2 linked regions of the Homo sapiens genome follow. The protein of the gene in region 1 interacts with the protein of each later gene in a biochemical or structural test. Each region holds a gene or a part of one and is shown on either strand. Other genes may lie near its edges.

Evidence for each region.
Region 2: the proteins of APEX2 (region 1) and MFHAS1 form a complex in vitro, tested with the Homo sapiens proteins (one large-scale study listed by BioGRID and IntAct).

What each region holds. Positions count from the first base shown.
Region 1 is NC_000023.11:55,006,261-55,009,672, forward strand, and holds the end of APEX2 (DNA-(apurinic or apyrimidinic site) endonuclease 2), read left to right. Parts: intron 1-257; coding exon 258-1,175; 3' UTR 1,176-2,797; downstream 2,798-3,412. Other genes in the region: ALAS2 (5-aminolevulinate synthase, erythroid-specific, mitochondrial isoform a precursor), read right to left, coding at 2,920-3,083. UniProt on the Homo sapiens protein: Functions as a weak apurinic/apyrimidinic (AP) endodeoxyribonuclease in the DNA base excision repair (BER) pathway of DNA lesions induced by oxidative and alkylating agents.
Region 2 is NC_000008.11:8,796,076-8,799,889, reverse strand, and holds part of MFHAS1 (malignant fibrous histiocytoma-amplified sequence 1), read left to right. Parts: intron 1-2,398; coding exon 2,399-2,525; intron 2,526-3,814. UniProt on the Homo sapiens protein: Probable GTP-binding protein. Functions in innate immunity and more specifically the inflammatory response as a regulator of the Toll-like receptor TLR2 and TLR4 signaling pathways.

The sequences.
Region 1 (3,412 bases):
TTTGCCATTGACGGACCAATGCAAGACAAATGCAAGCTCGTGCAGAGGGAAAAACAAGCATGGTCTTTTAAATCAGTAAGGATGAAAATCAGAATCCCAGCTCTGCCAATTCCGGACTGTGTGACCTTGAGCAGTAGTCCTCTTGGGACAACCAAATTTTCTTATTTGCAAAATGCAGCAGTTAGTCTAAGTCCCTTCCAGTTCTAGGTATCTAGTTCTGTCTCTCTCTCTTCCAACCCCCTTTCCTCCTCACCTAGGAATGCTTTGAAGAGGACCCAGGGCGCAAGTGGATGGACAGCTTGCTCAGTAACTTGGGGTGCCAGTCTGCCTCTCATGTAGGGCCCTTCATCGATAGCTACCGCTGCTTCCAACCAAAGCAGGAGGGGGCCTTCACCTGCTGGTCAGCAGTCACTGGCGCCCGCCATCTCAACTATGGCTCCCGGCTTGACTATGTGCTGGGGGACAGGACCCTGGTCATAGACACCTTTCAGGCCTCTTTCCTGCTGCCTGAGGTGATGGGCTCTGACCACTGCCCTGTGGGTGCAGTCTTGAGTGTGTCCTCTGTGCCTGCAAAACAGTGCCCACCTCTGTGCACCCGCTTCCTCCCTGAGTTTGCAGGCACCCAGCTCAAGATCCTTCGCTTCCTAGTTCCTCTCGAACAAAGTCCTGTGTTGGAGCAGTCGACGCTGCAGCACAACAATCAAACCCGGGTACAGACATGCCAAAACAAAGCCCAAGTGCGCTCAACCAGGCCTCAGCCCAGTCAGGTTGGCTCTAGCAGAGGCCAGAAAAACCTGAAGAGCTACTTTCAGCCCTCCCCTAGCTGTCCCCAAGCCTCTCCTGACATAGAGCTGCCTAGCCTACCACTGATGAGCGCCCTCATGACCCCGAAGACTCCAGAAGAGAAGGCAGTGGCCAAAGTGGTGAAGGGGCAGGCCAAGACTTCAGAAGCCAAAGATGAGAAGGAGTTACGGACCTCATTCTGGAAGTCTGTGCTGGCGGGGCCCTTGCGCACACCCCTCTGTGGGGGCCACAGGGAGCCATGTGTGATGCGTACTGTGAAGAAGCCAGGACCCAACTTGGGCCGCCGCTTCTACATGTGTGCCAGGCCCCGGGGTCCTCCCACTGACCCCTCCTCCCGGTGCAACTTCTTCCTCTGGAGCAGGCCCAGCTGAACCAATGGAGGCCTGGGGACATCTGGCATGGTCACCCCTGCACATGATCTGAGGCCAGCTCCCCTTCCCTGAGCTGCCTCCTGCTTCTCCCTCAAAGTCTCCTACCCTTCTCTTCCTCTTTTAAGCCCTCTCTTCCTCGCTTTCCTTCCTACCTAGCTCCTTGTTGGTGAGCTTCTTGTGCCTTAATCCTGTGACCCAGCCCCTTACACCACTTTCCACCTTCCTGTCCGAAGTACACGGACACTAGCTGCCCCAGGAAGTTGTGTGATTTTAAATCACTTCTGTCTTTGCTGGAAAGTGTATTTGTGCATAAATAAAGTCTGTGTATTTGTTTCAGGGTTGCACTTTGGACATTGTGGAGGTACTCCATAAAGTTGAGTCAGAGAAGCTATCTCAATACTTGGTTTGCCGGCTGGCTGTAGCCCAATGATGTAATTCCCAGAGAAAGGGGAGGAGGGAGGGGGGAGGAGGGAATAGTGAGGCGTGAGCAGCAGTGCTCACCATAAAGGGTTCTCTGCTCAGTTGTAGGAATTTCCTGTACGGCTAAGGTGAAATCAGCAAGGAAGGTGGGCTGTGTAGCCTTAAACCAGAGCTTTCCAGCTAGTGCGTCCCACAGCTGCCACAGTGGGTTACAGGGTTGAAAGAAACGGTCCTCAGCCCTCAGAGTTGCCAGGCAGGGCCTGGGACCACACAAGTTTCAGGGACGATTGCCTCCTTAGCAAGTAGTATCATTAGTACCCCTAAGTGTGCCATGGAAATGTTTCCTGTATACTGTGACCTGGAAAGTGGGAGCATTGCTTTGAACACAGTGCTTGCTCTAGCCAAGCCTCTTCTCACCTTTGAAAATGGGACTGGTAGACCAGGCACAGTGGTGCACGCCTGTAATCCCAGCACTTTGGGAGGCTGAGATGGGTGGATCACCTGAGGTCAGGAGTTCGCAACCAGCCTAACATGGTGAGACCCCGTCTCTACTAAATACAAAAAAATTAACTGGGCGTGGTGGCGCGTGCCTGTAATCCAAGCTACTTAGGAGGCTGAGACAGGAGAATAGCTTGTACCTGGGAGGCGGAGGTTGCAGTGGGCTGAGATCATGCATTGCACTCCAGCCTGGGCAACAAGAGTGAAATTCAGTCTCCAAAAAAAAAAAAAGAAAAGAAAAAGAATGGGACTGGTAAATCCTGTTCTGTGGGATGCCGTGGGAGGGAGAGAGGATAATGGATTGAGGAAGACATCCATATCCCCTTATGGAAAATACCTCTTTGGTTTTGGGGAACCACTCCTTTCTAGGGAATTTGGTTAGGGCTGACTCATTTCCTGGCTTCAGGGGCTACCCTGGGCCCAGATTTCCAGGGCCCGGATTACCAGTGAAGCGTCAATCCCTGGATTTTTATTGAAACCATTGGAGAAGAGCCATCTCAAATAAATCTGCCAAGTATCCTAGCTCTTTGCAACTCACTGTGTAGTTTTTGGGCATTTCCTTCCTCTTTCTCATTCTGTTTCCCTGTTGGTAAAATGGAATGGTGACCAACAAGTGACCTATGGTTACCTCATAGATCTGCCACTTGTCTGAGGGAGTCAGAATGCACTTGTCTGTTCCCTGTCCAATAAAAGGCTTCACATGCTGTGGTTTGTGCTTTATTTTTAGGCTCAATTCAGCTAGAGGCACACAACAAAGCAGAAGACAGGAGTAGGCCTGGACCCAAGTGAAGCGCAGGTGGGGTGTGAATCCTAGGCAGCTGGCTTCTCAGGCATAGGTGGTGACATACTGGGGCCCCATGTTCCCGAAGTAGGAACGTTCCCACTCACTCATGAGCTCAAAGTGTACAGGACGGCGACAGAAATTGCAGGCAGCCACAGACACATCCTGGAGGGGCAGCCCCACCGCAGTCCAAGCCAGCAGCAGCTTCTCTGAAGGTGGTAGGGGGAGGGGAGGGAAAAAATGGGTTAGACTAGATCTTCCAAATCTGTCACAGTACAGATGAGCCAAGATATTGATCCCCCTCAACCCTTCAAGATACCTCAGGGCCAGAAGTAGCCTACTGTTTGCTTCTGTGTGTGCCGTGAATATTACCATTTGTATCTGGATGCTGGGATATATATTATAAAAGATTTGGAAGCTCTCCTTTGACACAATTTGAAGCCATACTGTCCTGGCCTGGACCACTCCCTAAGTATAGGATGTGCTGTGGCCCAAGAATGACTGTCTGCTTGGGAACTCTAAGCCCTATGAGGACAAT
Region 2 (3,814 bases), on another chromosome or scaffold:
CCATTGTGAAGATTACACGAGGTGTACATTTAAAACTGCAGGCCCAGTGCTGATATGGGCCTGCGCTATCAGTGTGGCCTTTGCGGGGGATGAGACATTTAGAAATACGGTGTTTTTGTTTTCTTTTGCTCTTTGAGACGGAGTCTCACTCTGTCGCCCGGGTTGGAGTGCAGTGGCCTGATCTCAGCTCACTGAAACCTCTGCCTCCTGGATTCAAGTGATTCTCATGCCTCAGCCTCCCGAATACCTGAGATTACAGGTGCCCGCCAACATGCCTGGCTGATTTTTGTATTTCTAGTAGAGACTGGGTTTTACCATGTTGGCCAGGCTGATCTTGAACTCCTGGGCTCAAGCGATCCACCCGTCTTTGCCTCGCAAAGTGCTGGGATTAGAGGCATGAACCACTGTCCCAGCCAGAAATACAGTACTTTGAAGCAAAGGAATTTCATATCATTATACGTCAGCAGATACAGTGGTCCCCTTATCCATGGTTTCACTTTCTGTGATTTCAGTTACCTGCAATCAACTGTGGTCCAAATACATGTGAATGCAGCATAATAATAGTTTTTGAGAGACCATATTCATAAAAGTTTAATTATTAATACAGTATATTATCATTGTCCTATTTATTGTTGTAAATTTCTTACTGTGCCTAATTTATAAATTAAACTTTATCATAGGTATCTACTTATAGGCAAAAACATAGTCTGTATAGTCTTCGGTACTGTCCTCGGTTTCATGCATCCGCTGGGGTCTTGGAACGCATGTCTGAGGGATAAGGGGGGACTGCTCTTCTTTGGAGTCTCTAGAATTTCTTTTCTTTTTTTTTTTTTGTTGTTGTTGAGACAGATTCTCACTCTGTCGCCCAGGCTGGAGTGCAGTGGCGCAATCTGGGCTCACTGGAACCTCTGCCTTCCGGGTTCAAGCGATTCACCTGCCTCAGCCTCCTGGGTAGCTGGGACTACAGGCACCTGCCACAAATGCCTAGCTGATTTTTGTATTTTTAGTAGATGTGGAGTTTCACCTTATTGGCCAGGCTGGTCTCGAACTCCTGACCTTGTGATCCACCTGCCTCAGCCTTCCAAACTGCTAGGATTGCAGGTGTGAGCCACCGCGCCCAGCCCGGAGTCTCTAGAATTTCAAGTCAGCAGTAGAAGTGGTTGGTGCAGAGAGTTGAAGTTGTAATTGCAGTAGTGTCTTTCCCCAGTTGGTGTACATTTCACATCCTTGATTTGGTTAATTGACTTTCTAGAAGCCAGACATGGTGGCTCACACCTGTAATCCCAGCACTTTGGGAGGCTGAGGTGGGAGGATTGCTTGAGGCCAGAAGTTTGAGACCAGCCTGGGAAACATATCGAGACTCCTGTCTCTACAAAAATAAAGTAAAAGGTTAACATTTAGCCAGATGTGGTGCTGCATACCTGTGGTCCCAGCTATTTGGGAGTCTGAGGTGGGAGGATCACCTGAGCCTGGGAGATTGAGGCTGCAGAGAGCTGTGATTAGGCCACTGCACTTCAGCCTGGGTGACAAACCAAGAGCCTGTCTCCAAAACAACAACAAAAAATTTAGTTCCTAGGTTTAAGTAGGGCAGTTTGAACAATAATGTGTCCCATCTGCAGCCAGGAGCTGTTTCTTGAGTACTCTCTGAGAAAGGGCAGGGTGCCCTGGGTATATGGATGAGAGAATGGAAGTCATCACTGCTTTTAGAGATGTAATGATCTAGTTGAAGAGAGATTACATCCAGGGCATGCAGAGTAATAGCGTTCCTTTAAGTATTGTGGTGATCCATTAGGTTAATTATGTGTTTTTGCTAGACTCGTTAGATAGTGTTGTGTCGTGCATCTGCTTCACACATACCTATCAGGGCAATCCCCTTGCCCAGAGGAGGCTGGGCTGATCTTAGGCTGTTTGTGTTTTTAACACTTTTAGTCTGCTGTGTTTCCAGATCATTTATATAGGGCTTTGTTGAATGGTTGCTGTGGTCTGCTTGAGTCCCATCTGCCCCAAATCCTAATTATGAACACCTCCTTGGCAGCCCTTGCTTCGGTGGGCTCTGGGGACTCTGGCTCAGTCGTTGATATCTAGATAAAGATCCCTGGAGTCAGTCTGTTAAAAGGAAGGTGAGCAGAGCAGTGACAGATGCTGTCTTTGTCTAGTGTGGGCCTTCCTGCCATAACCATGAAAATTTTCTCCACGGTGACGCAGAGGAGGATTTAGGCGCTGGAGCCGGCGCCCAGGCAGTTCTGCTGTTCTTGGTTGCACATTTGTTCTCACATCCTTCGTTGCTTCACCTCTGCCCTTCTCCCCCTGCCCCCATCCCCGGGCAGTGCTGTCTTTGTAAAATGAGCCCATTTTTAGTGCACATCTCCCTAACACGTTTTTCTCTCTCCTCCTACAGGGGAGTTGCTGAGTCAGCCCAGACCGGAAGGAGTGGCAGAGATCATTTGCCCCAAGAACGGCAGCGAGCGAGTAAATGTTGCCTTGGTTTACCCACCCACGCCGACTGTGATCAGCCCCTGTTCCAAGTGAGTTCTCAAAGTCCCTCTGGCCCCGGGACCTGGCTCCTGATCCCAGCTCCATAGATATGACCACAAAAATCCAGGTTAAACTGCATCTGCACAAACCTTGCAAAGTCCTCCTGAACAGACATAATTCTTCTGGATGACATCAGCATCATGATTTATGCAGCAAAACAGGAACTTTTATTTCCTCTTTTTTGTGATTTTTTTTTTTTTTTTTACTTTAGCTAATAAAGTCAGAACATTTTTTAACAGCCTTTTTGAGATGTCATTCACATACCACAGTTCACTTACCTAAGTGTACAGTTCATTGGTTTTCAGTTTATTTGCAGGTATATGGAACCAAAAAGAACATTTTTTTTGTTGTTGTTTTTTGAGATGGAGTCTCGCTCTGTCACCCAGGCTGGAGTGCAGTGGTGCGATCTCGGCTCACTGCAAGCTCCGCCTCCCGGGTTCACCCCATTCTCCTGCCTCAGCCTCCCGAGTAGCTGGGACTACAGGCGCCCACCACCATGCCCAGCTAATTTTTTTGTATTTTTAGTAGAGACAGGGTTTCACCCTGTTAGCCAGGATGATCTCGATCTCCTGACCTCGGGATCCGCCCGTCTTGGCCTCCCAAAGTGCTGGGATTACAGGCGTGAGCCACCACGTCCGGCCTTTTTTTGCCTTTTTTTTTTTTTTTGTTTTGAGACGGAGTCTTGCTCTGTCGCCCAGGCTGGAGTGCAGTGGCGCCATCTTGGCTCACTGCAAGCTCCGCCTTCCGGGTTCGGGCCATTCTCCTGCCTCAGCCTCCCGAGTAGCTGGGACTACAGGCGCCCGCCACCGCGCCCGGCTAATTTTTTTGTATTTTTAGTAGAGACGGGGTTTCACCCTGTTAGCCAGGATGATCTCGATCTCCTGACCTCGGGATCCGCCCGTCTTGGCCTCCCAAAGTGCTGGGATTACAAAAGAAAATAGTTTTTTGACGGGCAGTCTTAACTCTGTCATTGCAGAATGAAGTTGGCTCTCACATCAAAAACCAGCGCAGGCCCATTCCATGAGCAAAGCCTGCAGAAAGTCAGTAATAGGCCGTTTTCTGTTGCATGGTTCTGATTGCGGAGTCAGTCCCTGAAAATCAAGGGCTGTGCAGTTTGCCACCACCTTGCCCCAAAATGGACTTGAAGACAGAGAACGCACACATGCCAAGTAACTTTCAGATAGAACATTGGGTTACTACTATTCTAGATAACACTCATCCTGTTGGTTTGGGTTTTATGTATGTGTGTTTTTCGTTTTGTTTTGTTTGTATTAAGAAC